Homo sapiens: one gene and its partner. The protein of the gene in region 1 purifies or fractionates together with the protein of each later gene. This does not show direct contact. Each region holds a gene or a part of one and is shown on either strand. Other genes may lie near its edges.

The links.
Region 2: the proteins of MYL4 (region 1) and IQGAP3 purify together in Homo sapiens (co-immunoprecipitation; 2 studies listed by BioGRID and IntAct, with this or other methods). This does not show direct contact.

What each region holds. Positions count from the first base shown.
Region 1 is NC_000017.11:47,205,489-47,219,649, forward strand, and holds the start of MYL4 (myosin light chain 4), read left to right. Parts: upstream 1-3,859; 5' UTR 3,860-3,934; coding exon 3,935-4,069; intron 4,070-8,310; coding exon 8,311-8,338; coding exon of another isoform or gene 8,339-8,431; intron 8,432-14,161. UniProt on the Homo sapiens protein: Regulatory light chain of myosin. Does not bind calcium.
Region 2 is NC_000001.11:156,534,566-156,541,565, reverse strand, and holds part of IQGAP3 (ras GTPase-activating-like protein IQGAP3), read left to right. Parts: intron 1-649; coding exon 650-858; intron 859-1,575; coding exon 1,576-1,728; intron 1,729-2,028; coding exon 2,029-2,192; intron 2,193-2,532; coding exon 2,533-2,757; intron 2,758-4,244; coding exon 4,245-4,385; intron 4,386-6,318; coding exon 6,319-6,403; intron 6,404-6,832; coding exon 6,833-7,000.

The DNA of each region.
Region 1 (14,161 bases):
GTTACTGGGCTCTAATGAAGCGTGGCGTCATGAATTTTAGTAAAAACAAGGCCAGGGGTTGATATGTTGCTTCTTCATGCATGGCTCTTTCCCTGAAACCACAGCTCTCCTCCAGTTGTTTCTGAAGTGCCAGGCACTTTTTTCACTGGGGCTGCTGAAAACGAATCCGAAACTGATTTGAGGAGCGTCTCCTCCCCTGCTGGGGCTCCTGTGCCTAAGGTTTCAGGTGGTTGGGCATGCCTTCTCTGAGTGTTCTCCGTCAGACAGGCTGCCTGGCCCTAGAGACTTGCCACATGCTTTCTGAGCCACAAATATTTTACACCATGAGTTCCCAGCTGCTGCCCTTCCCCCCGCTTCCATTCCTTTCCACCTCTTCCTCATTCCTAATCCCACACCTTAAAATCCCTTTAGCCACTGTCACCTTACCTTGTCCCTTTCTCATGTGGACCTCTCTCTGGAAGTTCCAAATCTGGGAAGCCTGAATGCACCTCTAGCTTCAACCTGCTTGGCAAAGGAAAGTGAAATGAACATCTTCGAATGTTTCCTACATGGCAGAGGTTGTTTGCAGTGCCTTACTTAACATTATTTCATACAAATCTCATGACAATTTGAAAAGGAAATGTTTATCCTCAAAGGTCCTGAGGCTACTAAGGCCTAGATTAGAAAGTGGCAAAACCAGGCTTCAGACCCATCACTGTCTACCTCCAGAGTCCACAGTATTTGCGTGATTTTGGATGTCTCCGGAGCCCCATTCGGCTTTCCCAGCTTTCTAACCTCATAGCTCTGTTCCCATGCAGACCTGATATTTTGCTTCTTAGAATTTAGAAAAGAAAGGGGAGTGGGGTGGGGGAAAAAAGGAAAAGAAGAAAAGGAAAGAACAACCTTCCAGCTTTTTCTTCTGAGGATCATACGTCTTTGTAGAATAACTACAACAATAACATAATACTAACTTGTTGTGTGTGCGTGTGTGTTTTAACTGGAAGGGGGCATGTGTCATTCAGTGATTATTTAAAAAAATTTTAAGCCATGGAACCATTAGAAAATGATACTGTTTTACATACTGGGAGCTCCAGTATGTAAAACACAGGAGTGGTGGTGACTGAAGTGATGGTGGTGGAAGGAGCTCCAAGGTCTGGCCTTTCTATGTACCCTGCAGCCAGAAGCATGTCACCCTATAAAGCAAGATAGCAAGATTGCTAGTCTCAGGATTCTGTTGAACATGGTTTGAAAGTCTCCTGATTGTTTTTCCTTTTAAAATAAGCAAGCTGAGGCCCAGAGAGAGGAAGTGGCTGGCAGAGTCAGGACTAGTGCCTGGGTCTCCCAGCTTCTATCCTGCAGCTCTTTACAGAAATCCCAGTTTGTATATTTTTGCACAAACTCCGCAGGATGCAGTCCAGGAAGGGATGCAGGTGGAGGTGGAGAAGGAGGAGGGCCTGGGCTTCCACTTTTTCTCTTTCCTCGTCACCAACAACCTGAACTCCCAACCCCTGTGGGGAATGGGGTAGGTCAAGGAGAGGACTGACAGGGATTATAGAAGAGTGCGAGCGAAGGTACAAGGAATCAAGTTTGGTAGCCGGCAAGGAAGAGAGGTGAGGCAGAAGATGAGGGGAGGAGGTGAGGTGCACAGAGCAAAGGAGCCACCATCCCAGCTCAGGACCAGGGCTGGGCTAGAATCTGGGCCCTGGTCTCGTTCTAGTATTCCCTTGAGCAAGTCCTGGCCCTTTTTCCTGCCCGTTTCCTTTGAGGGCTTCTCTGTCACCACCAGTGAGCGTGTATAGGCTACAGGAGGAGCAGTGAAGAGCAGTGTGCTACAGAGAGCACTGCACCCCAGGAAACAGAATTAGTTGGCCCAGCTCTGCCTATAAGTAGCTGAATGTCTTGAGGCAACTTCAACGTTTCCCTGGACCTTAGATTCCTTGCCTGTAAAACAGCATGGGGCCAGATGATCTCTAAGGGTCCTTCTGGCTCTGAAGGCAATGATCTGGGGCATGGAACCTGTAGTTAGAGAGCTGGGAAATGGGCAGATGTGGGCTCCAGGGCACCCAGAATTGCAGGCTTAGGAGCTAACAGCAACCAGGATTCTGTAGTCTAGCAATCTTGCTTTACAGGTGAGGAAACTGGGCCTAGAAAGGCGAAGTGATTTTTTTGCCTCTCTCAGCTTTATTCCTCTTTTCCTCTGAACTGTAGAGTCTAAAGATTCAGCACAAAGCAGTTTTGTGTAGTGGATACATAAGCTTTTTTGTTGTTATTTTTCTGAATTATTTTGTTGACTTTCAAAGTTTTTTTTACATAAACAGTAAATGCTCGTTATAAAAATTTCCATTAATACAGGAAGTGAAAAAAGTAAAAAACTGCAAATTGCTGTTATCCTCCCACCCTTACCCCCTAGGTCCCCAGAGGTGTCTCTGTTAACAGTTCAGCGTGTATCCATCCTGACTCCTCCAATAAATGCAGAAACTTGTATGTCTCTCCCCGACAACTGGATTATCATATACATTATTCAAGCATAGGCTTTAGACTCAGACATATCTACATCTAATCCCAGCTTATAGCTAATTATTTGAGTGACCTTGGCCAAGTTGTTCATCCAGTTTTAGTCTCAATCTCCCCATGTGTAAAGTGAAAATAATAATAGTATCTACCTGGCCTGGCGTGGCGGCTTATGCCTATAATCCCAGCCCTTTGGAAGACCGAGGCTAGTGGATCCCTTGAGCTCAGGAGTTCAAGACCAACCTGGGCAATTTAGCAAGACCTCATCTCTACTGAAAAACAAAAAACAAAAAAACTCCCCCAAAATTAGCCAAGTGTGCTGGTGTGCACCTGTAGTCCCAGCTACTCGGAAGGCTGAGGTGGGAGAATCGCTTGAGCCAGGAAAGACGAGGCTGCAGTGAGCTGTGATTGCACCACTGCACTGCAACCTGAGCAACAGAGCGATACCTTGTTTCTGTTAAAACAAACAAACAAACAAAATAGTATCTACCTTATAGGATCATGGTGAAGATTTAATGAGATTTTATATGAATAGCACTTAACAGTTCCTGGTACTGATAGTAGTAAGCACTACACACACACACACACACACACACACACACACACACACAGAGCACAGAATGAGTTAGAGGTAAAGTGAAAACTAAACCCCAAGTTTTCTGACCCTCAGTCTCCTCGACTTTCTACCACATCTCTCTGCTTCTCTCCTAGGTGCCTAGGCATGGGTTCAGTGCTCACTACTTGTTGAATGAATGACTGAGGTTGTGTGTAAGGGGGTAGATCTAGGGATCTGAGGTCTGTGGAGTTCCTGGGATGCCTGCTCTGGAAAATGGAGGCTTTCATCCTGTGAGTTGGGAGGGTGTGGGGCAGTGTGGGTTGGCTGGACCAGCTGTTGCTTCAGAGCTCCATGCCTGGAGAGTTGGGCCTCTAGGCAGAGCTGAGGGCCCAGAGTGGCTCTCAGCTTAAAGGATCTTGGCTTAGAAGGAATGTGCAGTGGGCTGCCTCTGCTCGGGAGGGGCTAAAAAAAGCCTCACCCTCCCCTGGGCTTTGTGTGAGGCTTATCAACTGCTCAAGTCAGCTCATCTCTCTGGCTGCTCCGGCATATTTGAGAAGGTCTGTTTCCCTGGTCCTTCTGGGTTTCCACCAATTGGCAAGAAGGGATCAGCCTGTCCTAGAGGTGAAGAGAGAGCTGTGGCATGAAGGGGAGGGGGCTGGTGGCCCCAAACCTGGTGACAATACACAGTTGTCAGCTGTACCCTGCTGGCGTTTCTTCCTTTTATAGTCAGCAGCAGTTGCTCTTGCTTTCACCCAGCCCCTCTGTGGGGGCTCCTGCCCAGGATAAAAGGGAAGGGAGGCAGCCCAGGCTCCTATCTCATCTCCCAGACGCCACGTCTCTCGGTTTCTTCTTAGATCACTCCTCTGCCAAAGATCCCAACAAGACAACATGGCTCCCAAGAAGCCTGAGCCTAAGAAGGAGGCAGCCAAGCCAGCTCCAGCTCCAGCTCCAGCCCCTGCACCAGCCCCTGCCCCAGCTCCTGAGGCTCCCAAGGAACCTGCCTTTGACCCCAAGAGTGTAAAGGTAAGTGAGGCTCAGCCATTGGGATAGAGGTGGGGATGACATTGAGAGTCCTTTTGCTCTGGAGCTTAGCGATCTACTTTATGTGGGCTGGACTGGGATGAGGACTAGGGTGTCCATGCCCCAGATCGCAGTCCCATGGGGCAGTGGAGTGGGTGTTGGGGCTGATGAGGGGGAGATTGAGTCATAAACCTTTTCCGTCAAGAATGAGGTGCTGCTTTGAGGGAGCCCTGTCCTGCTACCCTAGATTTGTGCAGCTAAGTTGGGAATGGGGGGAGGTACAACCAACCATCCATCCACCCTTTTATAAGGCATTATGAGGACCACCATAGCAAAGTAAAACAGACTAGCCTTTTCCTAGGAGGTAGTGGGATATCTTTATGGAGAACAGACAGATCATGGCAGCTGCCAGTGTAACTTGGAGTAAGTGATATAAACAGTCAGGGAATATCCTCCCTGTGCATGGCAGTTTGGGAAAGGCTTCACTCACAAACACTCTTACGGCAGGTGAGGGCAGGGTGGGAAGGAGGTTGTGGTTAAGGTAAGAGGAGCCCGGATTCCTCTCTCTCTTTCCTTACCCAGACGGGCCTTTCCTTCTGTGGCCTTAGCCTGGGTTCCTATCTGTAGCATGCAGAGGACTGGCCCACCCTGGGCTGAGACCCTCTCTCCAACCGGGTCAGGAAGCTGGGCCTGGTTCCTTTGCCCCACCCTGCTCTCCTCACACAAAACATTCCTCTCCCTGGAGCTGGTGTGGGCCCTGCATGCTGACTCAGTCATTTTAGACCTCCCAGCTCTCTGGCCCAGCTGCTGAAGGAATGGAACTGGTGGGAGAGGGGTGGGCTGAAGAGGGAGGGGGCCAGAGACCTCTGAAGAGGAGCAGTTTTAAGCCTTGGCACCAGAGTGGAAAAGGTCAAGTGGCTACTGGTATGAAGAGCTATTAATAACAGGTTGGGAGTGCTGAGCCCCCAGGGATCTCAGCCTTAGGACAGGGCTGGGGGTGGTGAGGGATCAGGTCAAAATAAGAGCACAGGACAAGGTTCTGTGACAAGCAGGCAGGGAAATTAAAACCCAGAGCTCTAATTGTATGACCTCCCTGCCCTCTGAGAATTCCTCTCATACCCACAGCCGGGATAACCCTACAAGTATTATGCCAAAGACCCAGTCCCCGCAAGGGACAGGAACTGCTTAGCCAAGAGATGGAGGCAATTGTCCCTTTTCTGAGCTTGGTTATGGCTCACTCTGGGGAAACTGAGGCTACTGTAGGACCCTGAAAACACCTGCAGGTTTTCTAGGTCATACATCACTCCATTTACAAGCTGAGCCTGGCAGGAAAAGCTGACTATTTCACCCTTCAGGATCCCTCCTCGCCTTTATTTCTGATTTGTTCCCATAAAGCACTGTGCCTTTGGGTGGGTTGCCAGGCCTTGTCCCTGGTGTCTGGGCAACAGCTGCCTAGTGGCATCAAACTGGTGTCCTTCCCTTGGCCTGTCACTTCTTTCATTCACTCTCCTCTCTCAATTTCTCACCCGTGAGAAATTGCACCCCTGGTTGCAATCCTCTTTTCCATATCTGCATCTTCATGGGGGTTGTTGAAGTTGCTTTGAAGTAGAAAAAAAATAGGTATCTTTTATGAGAGACATTTTCCCTATTATTGTGTTATACTTACCCAGTTCCTTTGATTAGAAGGTTCTTTACTCCAAGACAGAAGAGAAGCCAGATGAGGTGATTCATGTTTATAATCCCAGCCCTTTGGGAGGCTGAGGCGGGAGGGTAATTTGAGGCCAGGCATTTGAGTCCAGCCTGGGCAACATGGCAAGATCCTTGTCTCTACAAATAAATAAATAAATTATAAAAAAGATTCGAAGATAGAACAGAAGCAAACTTAAGCCCAGTGTGTGTAGTTAGGACCACGTCTATTGAGATTTTAAGTTTTTACATTAATTGCTCTTACATGTTTATTCCTGGTTCTTAAAGCATTGTAAAGTAAGGCAAACTGTGCCTTTTCCTCAGAGAGTGAATGCAGAGCATCCTTCACCCCATCTAGGGGGTTCCTTTAACTTTCTGACCACCCCCTACTTTTGGCAGTCTATTCCTAGCCACAACTAGTTTTCTTTCCAACCCAGTTAACTCCCCACTGCCCCAACCTATCCCCAGCTCATGGCTGCCATATCTGGGTCCTCATGAATGGAGGTCAGTTCTCGGAGATGAGACAGGATGGGCACAGCACAAGCAGCAGCAGAATTAGGACTAGGAATGACGGCACTTGAAGAAGAGGCTCCAGGATTGGAACCACCACCAGTGGAGAGGGGATGGGATGGGATGGGGTGGGGTGGGGTGCATAAGGACCACGAGGTAACATACAAGATCTTAAATCAAAATGATGACTTGGGCTGGGTGTGGTGGCTCACGCCTGTAATCTCAGCACTTTGGGAGGTCGAGGCAGGTGGATCACCTGAGGTCAGGAGTTCGAGGCCAGCCTAGCCAACATGGTGAAACCCTGTCTCTACTAAAAATACAAAAATTAGCTGGGCGTTATGGCGGGTGCCTGTAATCTCAGCTACTGAGGCAGAAGAATCGCTTGAACTTGGGAGGCGAAGGTCGCAGTGAGCCAAGATCACACCATTGCACTCCAGCCTGGGTGACAAGTGCGAAACTCCATCTCAAAAAATAAGAATAAAAAATAAAATAAAATGATGACTTATGCTTGGCCATTGTCATTCACTCTCCTCTTCTGTACTCAGCATTAAATTACTATGCATTATATGGGGGAAATCTAAAATGTATTACTTCATTCAACAAATGTTTTTCAGTGCCTACTATGTACTGAGCATTTCAGTGAACAATAACAAGAATCCTTGCCTGAGGGAGCAGTGGCTTCAAGGAGACAGAGTGCACGTAAAGGCATGACTGGAAACAATTAGGAAGCGTGGAGGGCCCATGCCAATTGCTCTTGCTGTCCCAGAGTGCCTAAGAGTGTGTCAGAAGACAAAATTAGAAGGCATTTTAGTTTAAAGATCTGAATTGGCTTTTATGTTTGAGTCTAGAATCTGGCAACAATGAGCCGAGCAGAGGAGGTGGTATTATAGACAAAGAAAGGCTGAGGTAAGCAGAAATGAGAGCAAAATGCAAATTGTTCATTGCAAAGTTACTTTTCTTGTAAAGGTTAAAGCAGATGGCACTTTCTTATCAAGCTGGCTGAAACTGTCATGTTTGGGGATTTGGCTATTATCTCTTATTTTCCTGATTTCTTGGAAAATCAGATGAACAACTTAGTTTCAGCTTGGTGACATGGAACTTCAGCATGAGTGAATCTATTTTGGTTTGGTCTGTTGGTCCTAGTGTAGGAGCTCAGTACAAACCAACGGCCTCTTATAAATTGTACTTAACGAGGGATATGTGCTGAAGGAGGGGTTGGAGTGGGATGCGGTGTGGGAAGCCTTCATTGAAGGGAGTGGATTTAAAATCAGAATCAAATAGAAAGAGCAGTCCGAGTGTGGGGAGTGGTGGTGCCCAAAGAGGGCAGAAGTGCAGCTTGTCAGAGGACTATGGACTAGGAAGAGATTGAAGGGGCAACAGTGAGGGCAGTTTGTGGGTGGCTAGGATGAAGAATTTACCTCAGACCCGGAGGCATTACAATAGGCAGTCCGTGTACGTTCTAGAATTATCCAGGGAATTTTTCTTTCCCTTTCGCTCTTACCTGGAGCCATCACTTAATAAGCGGTATTGAGAGAGCTTTGGAGTCTGCATTACAGTTGTCCCTCGTTATCTGTAGGGGATTAGTTCCAGGACCCCCACGGATACCAAAATCTGAGGATGCTCAAGTCTCCTATATAAAGTTTGCATATTTGCATATAATCTACACACAACCTCCTGTATAATTTAAATCATCTCTAGGTTACTTATAATACCTAGTACAATGTGAATACTATGTGATAGTTGTTATGTATTTTTTGTATTATATTTTATTTTCGTGTGGTTATTTATTGTTTTCTGAATATTTTCAATCCAGAGTTGGTTGAACCTGGGGAGGAGGGCCGACGGTATTTTATAGCCTGTCAGTTGTGGCTCATTCATCAGGAGACTTGTGTTTTACCCTTAGCACAAGTCACCTTCCCTGCTTATCAGTGGCCTGCTGGAGGTGGCCATACTGCATTGGAAGCCACTTCTGCTTCTACTTCCCTTTGGGGGGCCTTTACAACTGCTTTTAGCAATCCAAGCCCTCACTACTATTTCCCTCCCTACAGATAGACTTCACTGCCGACCAGATTGAAGGTGAGTATGGACAACCCCACCTCTCCGTCTCTATTGCACTTTCCTGGAGGAGGAGGAGGAGGAGGAAGAAGAGGAGGAGTAGTTGTCCTCATGGTAATAGTAATCACTGTCATCATCATAGCAAACCTATATTGAGCATCTACCATGTGTCAGGCATAGTCCTAGGCACTTTATATGGATTAACTCCTTTAATTCTCATAACAACACCATGAGGTAGAAATTGTTACCTCCCCCATTTTACAAGTGATAAACTGAGACACATAGAGATTGGGTGACTTGCCCAGTCTCACATGGCAGTCAGCAGTAGAGCTAAGATTCAAACTCAGGCAATCTGATTCCAGATCTGTTTCCTCAACTACTCTGCCAGACTGCTTGGAGCATAGTAGATGCTTAACAAAAGTTAGTGCCTTTTTTTCTTGGCCCCAAAGATCTATCTAAGATATTTGGAAGCCCTCATTTCTGTTCCCATTATTGGAAAGCCCTCCTTAGTTTACCAGCTTCCCCTCTTCCCACCATGAAGTCTGCCAATATGCTAACCCACTAATGGTGGCAGGGCCAATGAAATGTTTTATCATGTGATGCTCTGTGTCCCCAGCTGTAAAGCAGGACTCAATGTCATTGCAGCGTATCCCTCTGTTTCCTCCACCAAACGCCTCTAGGACATAAAATTATAGGAATTGGAAGGGACCTTGAAAAATCACCTAATCCAACCCCCTCATTTTAAGCACATACTCTCTTTTAAAACTTAAATGAATATTTGCACATGGTAAAACAAAAAAGCAAAAAAGCACACACATATTACTTAAAAGTAAATAATAAAAAATAAAAATCCTTTTTTTCCATGCTGATTCCTCTCCCAAAGACAACCACTGTGAACAGGTGTTTATGTATCCTTTCAGAAAAATATATAATGATACACAAGTTTGTGTGTATGTATGAGTGTATACAGTTTATACAAATCAAGCCGTGTGATACACACTGTCCACCTTTTATTAAATATATACTTGGATTTAATAATATACAGTATTTGGATATCTTTTCAAAATTAACACAAACAGTTCTACCTCATTCTTTTAAACAATTATATAGACTCTCACACACAGATGTACCCTTTTAATTTAATCAAGACTATATTGATAGGCTTTCAGATTGTTTCCGGTGGGAGGATATCAGCTTTCTTTCGCCTGTGGCCTTCCTAGCAGGGTTTAAAGGATGGTGCATTTTAAATTATAATGGTTATTACCAGGTTGCTCTCCAAAAAAGTGACACCAGTTTACCCACAAATGGAGCATGAGAGCTGGCATATGCATTTTGAAACTAGTGAATTGAGCCTGACTCTGTTTTCATAATACTCAGTGGATACTCACTTGCAGCATTAATTTCAATGCATTTTAGTTAAATATATACTTACGTGGATATAGAAACACAATGACACTAGTGAGGACTGGAAAATCAACTAATGATTTAAAATTTTAATTTCCCAAATGGCCAACTGGAACAGATGGTTATCTCTTCTCTCCTGAAGACTTTCAGGGCTGATGGGGAGGGGACAACTCATTCTGATCTTTTATCCCTCTGACTTTGAAGACATTTTTCCTTCTGTTGAATCAGAATTGTTTTTCCTTTAATTTTACCCCAGCGATCTTTTCATTTGTTTTTTGGTGAAGATTATAATGGTTTTCTCATTGTCATCTTGGTTATGGTGGAAAGAACATAATTTGGAATTAGGAGACTTTCGTATTAGCCCTAATTCTTCCATTATTGGCCATGAGACTTCGGACAAGTCACTTCTTTAAATCTTAATTTTCTTATCCACAAAGTGAGGGTATTTGGGTTTCAATTCAGAAATTCTAGTCCATTCAGCATCCTCTAGATATCCTCCATCTATTTGGAGATAGTTTTCAAATCCCTCCTAAGATTTATATTCTCTAGGTGATATGCCTCAATTTATTTTATTTTATTTTATCATTTTATTTTATCTTGAGACAAGGTCTTGCTCTCTCACCTAGGCTGGAGTGCAATGGTGCTATCATAGCTCACGATAACCTTGAATTCCTGGTTTTAAGCAATCCTTTCACCTCAGTCTCCTGAGTAGCTTGTACTACAGGCATGTACCATTGTTTTTATGTTTTGTAGAGATGGGGGTCTCGCTATTTTGCCCAGACTGGACTCCAACTCCTGGCCTCAAGCAATCCTCCCACCTTGGCCTCCCACAGTGCTGGGATTATAGGCATTAAGTCACTGTGCCTGGCCTCCCAATTTCTTTTGTGCTTTTTTTTTTTTTCCCCCTCATAGGAATTAGCTTCTAACCCTTGGCTTGCTTCTCATCCCTCTCCAGACTTCTGTATTCTTTTAGAGAGGGGTTACTACCACTGGACTCATTGCTCTAGTAAGCAGGTGACCACACTACTGCAGATTATTGAGGAAAGGTCTCTTCTGGACCCTTGAACATCACCTCTAATACCTGAAGTTCACACTGGCTTTTTTTTTTTTTTTTCTAGTTGTAGTCCTAAACTTCAGTGTTTGATTTTTTTATGTGCATACCAGGCTTCCCAGCAGGCCAGGTGATTGGTTGGAGCATTAGCAGTTATAACAAGCAGGTCTCCTTCTCTTCCTCCTTCCTCCCCATCATTTCCTTGGTTTGCTTAATAGTTGATCATAAGTCATATCTACATTGGCTTTTACATGAGGATAATAATACCTATAGCATATATTTTTTCATAAAGATTAATAAAGTGTTCTATGCAAAATTATTTGCTCAGATCCTGGTTCATGGTAAGTGCTCAAATTATAGGTCATTGTTCTTATTACCTTCCTCTTCAGGTTTCACCCTCTTATTAAGCATCATGACATCTTTTTTTTCTTTTTCTTTCTTTTTTTTTTTTGAGACAGAGTTTTGCGCTTGTTGCCCAGGCTGGAGTGCAATGGTGTGATCTCTGCTCACCGCAACCTCCGCCTCCCGGGTTCAAGCAATTCTCCTGCCTCAGCCTCCTGAGTAGCTGGGATTGCAGGCATGCATCACCACGCTCAGATAATTTTGTATTTTTTATATAGATGGGGTTTCTCCATGTTGGTCAGGCTGGTCTCAAACTCCCAACCTCAGGTGATCTGCCCGCCTTGGCCTCCCAAAGTACTGGGATTACAGGCGTGAGCCACTGTGCCTGGCACATCATTACATCTTCTTTTGAGGAGACTTCCTCTTTTGTTAAACTTGACCTCACTCTTCTGAATGAACTAGGAGATCAAAAAGTCTGACTTCAGATTCAACTAACAAATATGTATTTATCAAGCACTGAATTTGTGCCAGACACCATGCTAATTGTTTTAAAGGTAAAAAAGATAAATCCTGCCTGGGTGCGGTGGCTCATACCTGTAATCTCAGCACTTTGGGAGGCTGAGGCAGGTGGATCACTTGAGGTCATGAGTTGGAGACCAGCCTGGCCAACGTGGTGAAACCCCACCTCTACCAAGAGTATAAAAAATTAGCTGGGGGTGGTGGCACGCACCTGTAATCCCAGCTACTCGAGAGGCTGAGGCAGGAGAATTGCTTGAACCTGGGAGGTGGAGGTTGCAGTGAGCTGAGATTGTGCCACTGTACTCCAGCCCAGGTGACAGAGCAAGACTTTGTCTCCAAAAAAAAAAAAGATTACATCCTTATAACAAGGCTATGAGGTAGGTGTTATTTCCTTTTTACAAAGCAGGAAACCAAAGTTCAGCAAAGTTAAATGATTTGGCCAAGATCACATGGTTAAGTGATCCAAATTAGGATTAAACTCAATAAGATAATACTAGCAGCATTGTTTATGCATTTACTATGTGCTGGTCATTGTGTTAAAAATTTTTACATACATTATTGTATTTATATACCTAGTATATTTACATACATTATTATATTAATTTGAATGTAATTTAAGAAACCTATGATAGCTGGGTGGAGTGACTCACACCTGTAATCCCAGCACTTTGGGAGGCCGACGTGGGCTGATCACCTGAGGTTGGGAGTTCGAGACCAGCCTGACCAACATGGAGAAACCCCGTCTCTACTAAAAATACATAATTAGCCTGGCGTGGTGGCGCATGCCTGTAATGCCTGTAATCCTAGCTACTCAGGAGGCTGAGGCAGGAGAATCGCTTGAACCGGGAGGCGGAGGTTGCAGTGAGCCGAAATCGCGACATTGCACTCCAGCCTGGGCAACAAGAGTGAAACTCCATCTCAAAAAAAAAAAAAAAACAAAAAACTAACTAAAAAGAAACCTATGATGTAGGTACCATTTATAGAAGAGGTTTTTAGAGGTTAAATATTTATTTGTCCAAAGTCAAGCAATGGGAATGAAATTTGAACTCGATTATTCAGTAATGTGAAAGAAATGTGGTTTTATGTCTTTTAAATTCATATAAAGCCGAAGAAAGAGTTGGAAGTAAAGGTCTGGGGAATCTTCTGTGATATGTGGAATGATTTGTAAATAATCCATACGCAGCCTCGAAGGAAAGAAGTACTTGGAAAGGATGAAAACTGGCTTTTTTTCCTAAGTAGTTCATGAATTCTTTTTTGGCTTATACTGTTCATCTGCTTAGTAAAGCACTTCTTTGTGGGTAGCATAAGGTAACTTAAATGCCCCTCCCAGGCCAAATTACCTCCACTAATGAATTGGTTGAATCCCAATCAATGAAGAATTGGGCCCGGGTATGATGGCTCACACCTGTCATCCCAGCACTAGGGAGGCCAAGGCAGATGGATCACTTGAGGCCAGGAATTTGAGACCAGCCTGGCCAACATGGTGAAACCCTGTCTCTGCTAAAATACAAAAATTAGCCAGGTGTCGTGGTGGTGGGCGCCTGTAGTCCCAGCTACTCGGAGGCTGAGGCACAGGAATTGCTTGAATCTGGGAGGCGGAGGTTGCAGTGAACTGAGATCACACCACTGTACTCCAGCCTGGGTGACAGAGCGAGACTCTGTCTCAAACAAAAACAAAAACAAAACCAAAACAAATCAATGAAGAGTTAAGGTTCTTTGAAAAAGGGACCAGGAGTGCCTTCCTTTGGTCTTGCTGCAGGGATACTTGCCCTGCTGCCTTCAAGGAGTCCAGTCCCTGTGGTTCTGAGCTGGTAAGTAGGAAAGAGAACTAGGAAACAGCTGTAACCACAATTTGTCGATTCCCTTACCATATGCTGAACATTGCTTGGCGTGCTTTGTGATCCCACCTGCAACCCACTCAAGTGATCATTGTATCTCCACTTAGAGCTAGGAAAATGAGGGCCCACAGGGGTTAATAGTTTGCCCAAGGCTGTATGCGAGTCCATGGCAGAGCTGGGGTGGTCTGACCATTGCCTTATCTGGCCTGGGGGCCGCCTTTCAGCCTGGAACAGGCAGTACTGATAACAGCTGACTTTCCAGCGGTCTTATCACTTTGTAAAGTGCTTCCACACACTGCGACCTCCCTTTGCTCTCACAGTGACAGGCCCAGGGAGTGGGGTGTAGTTGTCACTCCCTTTGTGTGCACATGAAGCTGAGACCCAGCCCAGCTTATCCTGCACTCTGAGGCAGAGCCAAGATGAGAATTTAGGAATCCTCACTTCTGGGCCAGTGCTGTTTTCACTTGTCTGTCATTTCAGGAGTCAGGAACCTCACCTACACCAGAGCGGGATGTGTGGGTGGGAGGGGTGGAGGCCAGGGAGACATCTGAATTTTTTTTTTGTTTCAAGATGGAGTTTCACTCTGTCACCCAGGCTGGAGTGCAGTGGTGCGATCTTGGCTGACTGCAACCTCTGCCTCCCGAGCTCAAGCGATTCTCGGGCCGCAGCCTCCCAACACTGGAATTTTAT
Region 2 (7,000 bases), on another chromosome or scaffold:
TCTGTCTCATAGTAAACATTCTATGTATTAGTTGTTTTGTTGTTATTTCCAATAAATTAGCTCAGAGGCTTCTTTCTTTTTTGCTCAAATGCCAATTCCAAAGGTGATTCAAGGAGAATCACCAGCTAGCTCTGACCTCCCCTAAATTATAAAGCCCACTGTCCATCCCGTCTACCTGTCCTTCCCGGTGTGTACAGACATTCCTGACAGAGGAGCACTGTGGGAGCAAGCAGGGCTGAGTGGTGGCTGGCAGGTAGGAGGAGGAGGAGGAGCAGGTTGGCCCAGCAGAAGTGAGTGGTAGATTGGGGTAGACTAGGGAGGTCTGGGAGGATAATCAGAGGGAGCTGTGGCTCTGGCTTTGGTGTCAGAGGTCCCTGGGATAGACCCAGGCTGGGGTGAATCAGAGGCATGGGAAGAGCAGCTATTATGTCATCTCCAGTTATAAGACAGGAAGCTCAGGGACAGGCCTGGCTAGAAGGCTACCCACTGCCCTCCAAGTGCAAGCAGAACCAGTTAGAAGAGGACTGGGGTTGGGGACCTGCTGATCCCAAGCAGAACGGGGACTGGGGTGGGCTGACTCGGGCAGGGGCTGGTGAGGAGGCCTCTGATGAGGCATGGCTAATCCTGATGCCTCCTCCCTTCCTCCCAGTGCATGCACCCCACCCTCCTCTCAGTGTGGTACGCAGATTTGCCCATCTCTTGAATCAAAGCCAGCAAGACTTCTTGGCTGAGGCAGAGCTGCTGAAGCTCCAGGAAGAGGTAGTTAGGAAGATCCGATCCAATCAGCAGCTGGAGCAGGACCTCAACATCATGGACATCAAGATTGGCCTGCTGGTGAAGAACCGGATCACTCTGCAGGTATGGGGCCCACCAGTCCTCCCCTCCCCGAGATCTGCCTGCCTCTGGAGATGTGATGCTGACCATTCTCTGCTTGCTAATCAATTTTTTTCAAAATGTTGTGGATTTTGTCACCTGACTCAGGTCCTTGTTCCAGTGGCCCTCTGCCATTCTAATAAATCATTTTGGGGGACCCATGACAGAGTAGAAAGAGCATGAAACCTAGAATCAGAATGCCTGGCTCTGCTGATTCCCAGGGATGGGGCTGTGGGTGCTCATTTCACTTCTAAGTCTGTTTTCTCATTAGCAAACTGAGAATAATGAGAATGTCCACCTCTCCAGGCCAAATATAGAGACAGATATGAAAGCTGTTTAAATCATAAATTACCATATAAATATGCAGTGACAGGGTAATAGTGATATAGTGATAGCTCCACCTCAAATGTGTGTAGCAGTCTAATAAGAAGAGATAGCAAAAGCCAAATAGACACAATTCCTCAGCCTGGCAAACCAGTTCTCTTTGGGGACTCACTCCCATGACAGGAGAGGAAACAGATGGAGTCTCAGGGCACTTGGAGGGGCCCTTCCTCACCCTAGAACTGCTTCTGTCCCCCAGCTTATGCCTGTTCCTTGAACAGCAGAAAGCCCTGGCTCTTCAAGGCACTGATTCTAGACCGTATGTTCTGTGCCCTGGGATGGCCTAGGCTAGTTGTATCACCCGCTCCTCCACCCCTGCAGGAAGTGGTCTCCCACTGCAAGAAGCTGACCAAGAGGAATAAGGAACAGCTGTCAGATATGATGGTTCTGGACAAGCAGAAGGGTTTAAAGTCGCTGAGCAAAGAGAAACGGCAGAAACTAGAAGCATACCAACACCTCTTCTACCTGCTCCAGGTTAGCAGAGGACTTTCCAAGGAGAAGTCTCTCCCGTCTCCTGAGGGTCTGAGACTTCAAGGCCTTCTTGTCTGTGCGTTTGGCACCATGCAAGGTGTCCTTTCCCATAATCTTAATTCCTTATCCCCAGGAAAGGAGACTACCTCTTCCCCTGTTTGTCTGGAATGTTACTAGCACCTGGAGAAAGTGTGGTAGTGCTTTCTCCATTCCAGATTTCCATCAGGGGAAAGCCTTTCCTTATCCTATCACTGGTCCTTGAAGTGCATGGTCAGCCATTCCTGTCTCCCCTCTTGCTTGCAGACTCAGCCCATCTACCTGGCCAAGCTGATCTTTCAGATGCCACAGAACAAAACCACCAAGTTCATGGAGGCAGTGATTTTCAGCCTGTACAACTATGCCTCCAGCCGCCGAGAGGCCTATCTCCTGCTCCAGCTGTTCAAGACAGCACTCCAGGAGGAAATCAAGTAGGCTCTCCAGACACAAAGGAATGGGGAGAGAATGGGTTAAGAGATCCCCCTGTTGGCTCCTTCACAAGGTGACAACTTGTTGAGGCCTAAGGGTAGAAATGGAATCAGAAGACCTCTTTTCTCTACCTCCTGTGGAGAAACCGTAAAACATCTGGGACAGCACAGTGGGAGGATATGGGCTGACATGCTAACACAAAGGATGAGAGAGATATCAAGACATTCCTTAAGAGCGGGGACACCAGGGCAGGCTTTGAGAGCCAAAATCTCAAAAAGGAAAAGCAACGGTATGTCCTACACAGAGGCAGAAGACTGGTTTCAATGACCTCTTAAACCACAGGTCAAAGGTGGAGCAGCCCCAGGACGTGGTGACAGGCAACCCAACAGTGGTGAGGCTGGTGGTGAGATTCTACCGTAATGGGCGGGGACAGAGTGCCCTGCAGGAGATTCTGGGCAAGGTTATCCAGGATGTGCTAGAAGACAAAGTGCTCAGCGTCCACACAGACCCTGTCCACCTCTATAAGAACTGGATCAACCAGACTGAGGCCCAGACAGGGCAGCGCAGGTGAGCACATGGGCAGAGGGAGGAGCTCTCTTTGATCAGCTGTGTCTTGATCAGCTGTGTCTTGGACCCTACTGGGGAAGCTTGGGTGTACTTTGAAGGTGGCATATAAATGGGCATGCTGATCTATGCAAATATGACACCAGCTTTGTAGGCATGAATAAGGTAGTCTTTTAGACCCCCTCTGATAATTAACATGAAACTGATGTAAATGACTTCAGACCTGGTGGGCTTAACATAAAATGAGTACAGATGAATATGCAAATGTGCTTAATTGCTATGTCAGTGCTTGCAAATGATGTGTCAAATTTGGTGGTAGTAGGGCCGGACATAGTGGCTCACGCCTGTAATCCCAGCACTTTGGGGGGCTCAAGGTGGGCAGATCACCTGAGGTCAGGAGTTTGAGACCAGCCTGGCCAACATGGTGAAACTCTATCTCTACTAAAAATGTAGGTCAGGCGTGGTGGCTCACGCCTGTAATCCCAGCACTTTGGGAGACCGAGGCAGGCGGATCACGAGGTCAGGAGATCGAGACTATCCTGGCTAACATGGTGAAACCCCATCTCTACTAAAAATACAAAAAATTAGCCGGGCGTGGTGGCAGGCACCTGTAGTCCTAGCTACTCGGGAGGCTGAAGCAGGAGAATGTCATGAATCTGGGAGGCAGAGCTTGCAGTGAGCCGAGATCGTGCCACTGCACTCCAGGCTGGGCGACAGAGCGAGACTCTGTCTCAAAAATAAAAAATACAAAAATTCGCCGGGTGTTGTGGCGCACTCCTGCAGTCCCAGCTACTCGGGAGGCTGAGGCAAGAGAATCACTTGAACCTGGGAGGTTGCGGTGAGCCGAGATTGCACCACTGCACTCCAGCTCTAGGCAACAGAGTGAGACTCTGTCCCCCCGCAAAAAAAAAAAAAAAAATTTGCTGGGAGTTAGGATATGGACTCCTATTGATAGGGGTATAGAAGAATATTTCTATTTACAGATGAATAGGCAAATGAGATAGTGGGAGAGATAGGTTGCCCTTATAGCCTGGGGTCATTACTCAGGTCCCTAGGTGCTAGGGAAACCTAGCCACAGAGGCGAGCAGGCAATCCTGGTGGCTGCTCTGGATGGCACAGGAGGCTTTAGGTGAGGGAACTATAAGGCTCTGGCCCAGCCTCTCCATTATTCCAAACTCCCAAAGACTATTTGCAGCGCAGCCGCCTGCTTGTCATCTGTTCCCCTTAGAAGGGTCCCTAGATTCCACGTTCTCTGTTCCTTCCTACATTCTTCCAGCTTCCCTGTAGATACTCCAACTCTTCTTTACCTCCCGACTGCATTTCTCCAGTCCTTTCTCTCATTCTGGCCCTTTCTCCTTTAGCATGCTGAGCTGTCCTTAGCACATCTGTATGAGATCTTGTTGTTAGACAAGCGTTTAAGGAATAGGGCCTTGGGGAAGGAGGCCATTGGAGGGGGCTCCTGCTTACACCTTGTCTCTCTCTGCTCATAGCCATCTCCCATATGATGTCACCCCGGAGCAGGCCTTGAGCCACCCCGAGGTCCAGAGACGACTGGACATCGCCCTACGCAACCTCCTCGCCATGACTGATAAGTTCCTTTTAGCCATCACCTCATCTGTGGACCAAATTCCGTATGTGCAACAGCCCCACCCCAGCCTACGCATGGGATTTCAAGAGGGCCAGGCCACCATGGGGAGCAGAGCAGGGTGATAGTCCTGCAGGGAGGAAGGCAGGGAGGGAGATGGAGCCAGGGGTACTCAGAGGGGTTCCTGAAGAGATGTGGGGAATGCTCGAAGCTCCTGCTAGAGAGCTGAGCTGAGAGACGGCGTGCAAGTCTGTGTGTGGCCTGGTAGGATGTCAGTGGAACCAGAGGAGGGACCCTAAAATGATCTCAGGGACACTTTATTAGCTAAGAGCAAATGAGGAGAAAATGGGACTCTTCAGTTCCCAATATCAAAAATAAATATTTTAAGCCCATAAAGTACTTTATAGTTCTCTCTTTTCTTAAAATTTAGTCAATACGTTTGGTTTTCTACATTTATTTTTGACACATGATAATTGTACATATTCATAGGGTATAGTGTGATGTTTTGATACGTGTATACATTGTGCAATGAATGATCAAATCAGGGTAATTAGCATATCTATTACCTCAAACATTTATTTCTTTTTGGTGAGAACATTCAAAATCCTTCTAGCTATTTTGAGATATACAACACATTATTATCAACTATAGTCACCTTCTGTGCAATAGAGCACCAGAACTTATTCTTTCTACCTGGATGTAACTTTGTACCCATTGACCAACCTCTCCCCATCCTCTCTCCCCTTCTCCTACCCTCCCCAGACTCCGGTAACCACCATTCTACTCTCTACTCCTGTGAAATCACCTTTTTAAGATTCCACATATGAGTGAGATTATGCAGTATTTGTCCTTCTGTGTTTGGCTTATGTATGTCACTTAACACGAACCTCTACGTTCATCTATGTTGTCGAAAATGACAGGCTTTCATTCTTTTTTTGTTTGTTTTTCTTTATTTTTTATTATTATTATTTTTAAGACAGGGTCTCACTCCATTGCCCAGGCTGGAATGCCCAGGGCAAGATGAGGATGTTGAAAGGGGGAACCCACAGAGTTTATAACCCTGCTCCCCAAACCTGGAGAACCGGATTAAGAGTTTACAATTAGGAGTAAGAAAAGATTGTTCTAGGCTTAAGAAAGTAAAGTACACAATGAGCTGTAAACTTCTGTCTCTGGTACCCTAGGAGTGGAAATTGCTTTTAAATGAATTTAATTACATTTGTAGGTGGCACATCCATAATAGGAATAATAATGATAATACAGTCTAGCACATTTGAATAGTACTCTACCATTATACGTTACTCTCGCAGACATAATTTCACTTGATCCTCAAAAAGCCCTGTGAGAAGAGAAGGCAAGAATGATCATTCCCATTTTCTAGACCAGGGGACAGACTTACAAAGGAGAAGGAAATAGTCTAAGATAATATCTCTGGTTGGTGGTGGAGTCCAAACTGGAGCTTCTCCTCCCGGCTCACTGATCTCCTTGGGGCCCTACCTCTAGCCCAGACTAGGCCACTCACAGATGCTCTGTGACAGCTGACAAGGTTGACTACCTCGGAGCCACCTAGGCTGTCCTAGGACAGGGTTTTGGCTGTGAGTGTCAGATACCCAAGCTTTAGGTTAATGGTGCCTCTGGGGGATGGGGGATGGCTATGGTGAGCTGGGGTGCTCTGCAGGGGACCCAGAGAGTCTCAAAGAAGAGGTTCTCGAGCCAGGTTGGAGGCTGTGTGAGAGATTTAGTAGATGATAGGGCCCTGGTCCTGACTACTGACATAAGGCAGGAGGAAGGGACAAGGCCCAGAGACGTTTGGAGGAAGGCAGCAGGGAGCTGGCTATGGCTAGTGGAGGGACAGTGCTTGAGCTCTACTCTGGAGTGGCTGAGCCTGGGGGAGAAGAGACAGCCAGGCACTCAAGCTCTTATCTCTGGCAGAGAGAGATGGGCAGAGGCACAGCCACGCGCACCTGTTTCTTTGTCCCCAGGTATGGGATGCGATATGTGGCCAAAGTCCTGAAGGCAACTCTGGCAGAGAAATTCCCTGACGCCACAGACAGCGAGGTCTATAAGGCAAGTGTTGTCTCCCCACCCCCACCTCCCAATCCCTCCTTTGCTTTGCTGGTACCTGCAATCCCCAGACTGAGACAAAAACACAAAAAATCCTATGCCATAAAAATCCAAGGAGGGAAATATGCTGCCCCCTATAAATGGAGCCTGGCTCACCCGCAGGGCTTCAGGTGGCAGATGGCTCATGCTGGGGTGTGAGCGAACAGAGTGGGCAACACTGGCTTCTTGTCAGGAGATCTGGGTTCAAGTCCCAGCTCTTGCTCAGGTTTGCTGTGTGGCCTTAAGCAAGTTGTCTGCCTGCTCTGGGCCTGTTTTCTTTGAAGTGAGGGGGTTGGCCCAGGTGTCCCTTCCAGCCAAGCAAGCTGAGAATGTGGGGCCGCACCAGTCAAGGCGGCCCCTGGACACTTCTGGGAGAGTCTCCTTTGCCCTCAGGTGGTCGGGAACCTCCTGTACTACCGCTTCCTGAACCCAGCTGTGGTGGCTCCTGACGCCTTCGACATTGTGGCCATGGCAGCTGGTGGAGCCCTGGCTGCCCCCCAGCGCCATGCCCTGGGGGCTGTGGCTCAGCTCCTACAGCACGCTGCGGCTGGCAAGGCCTTC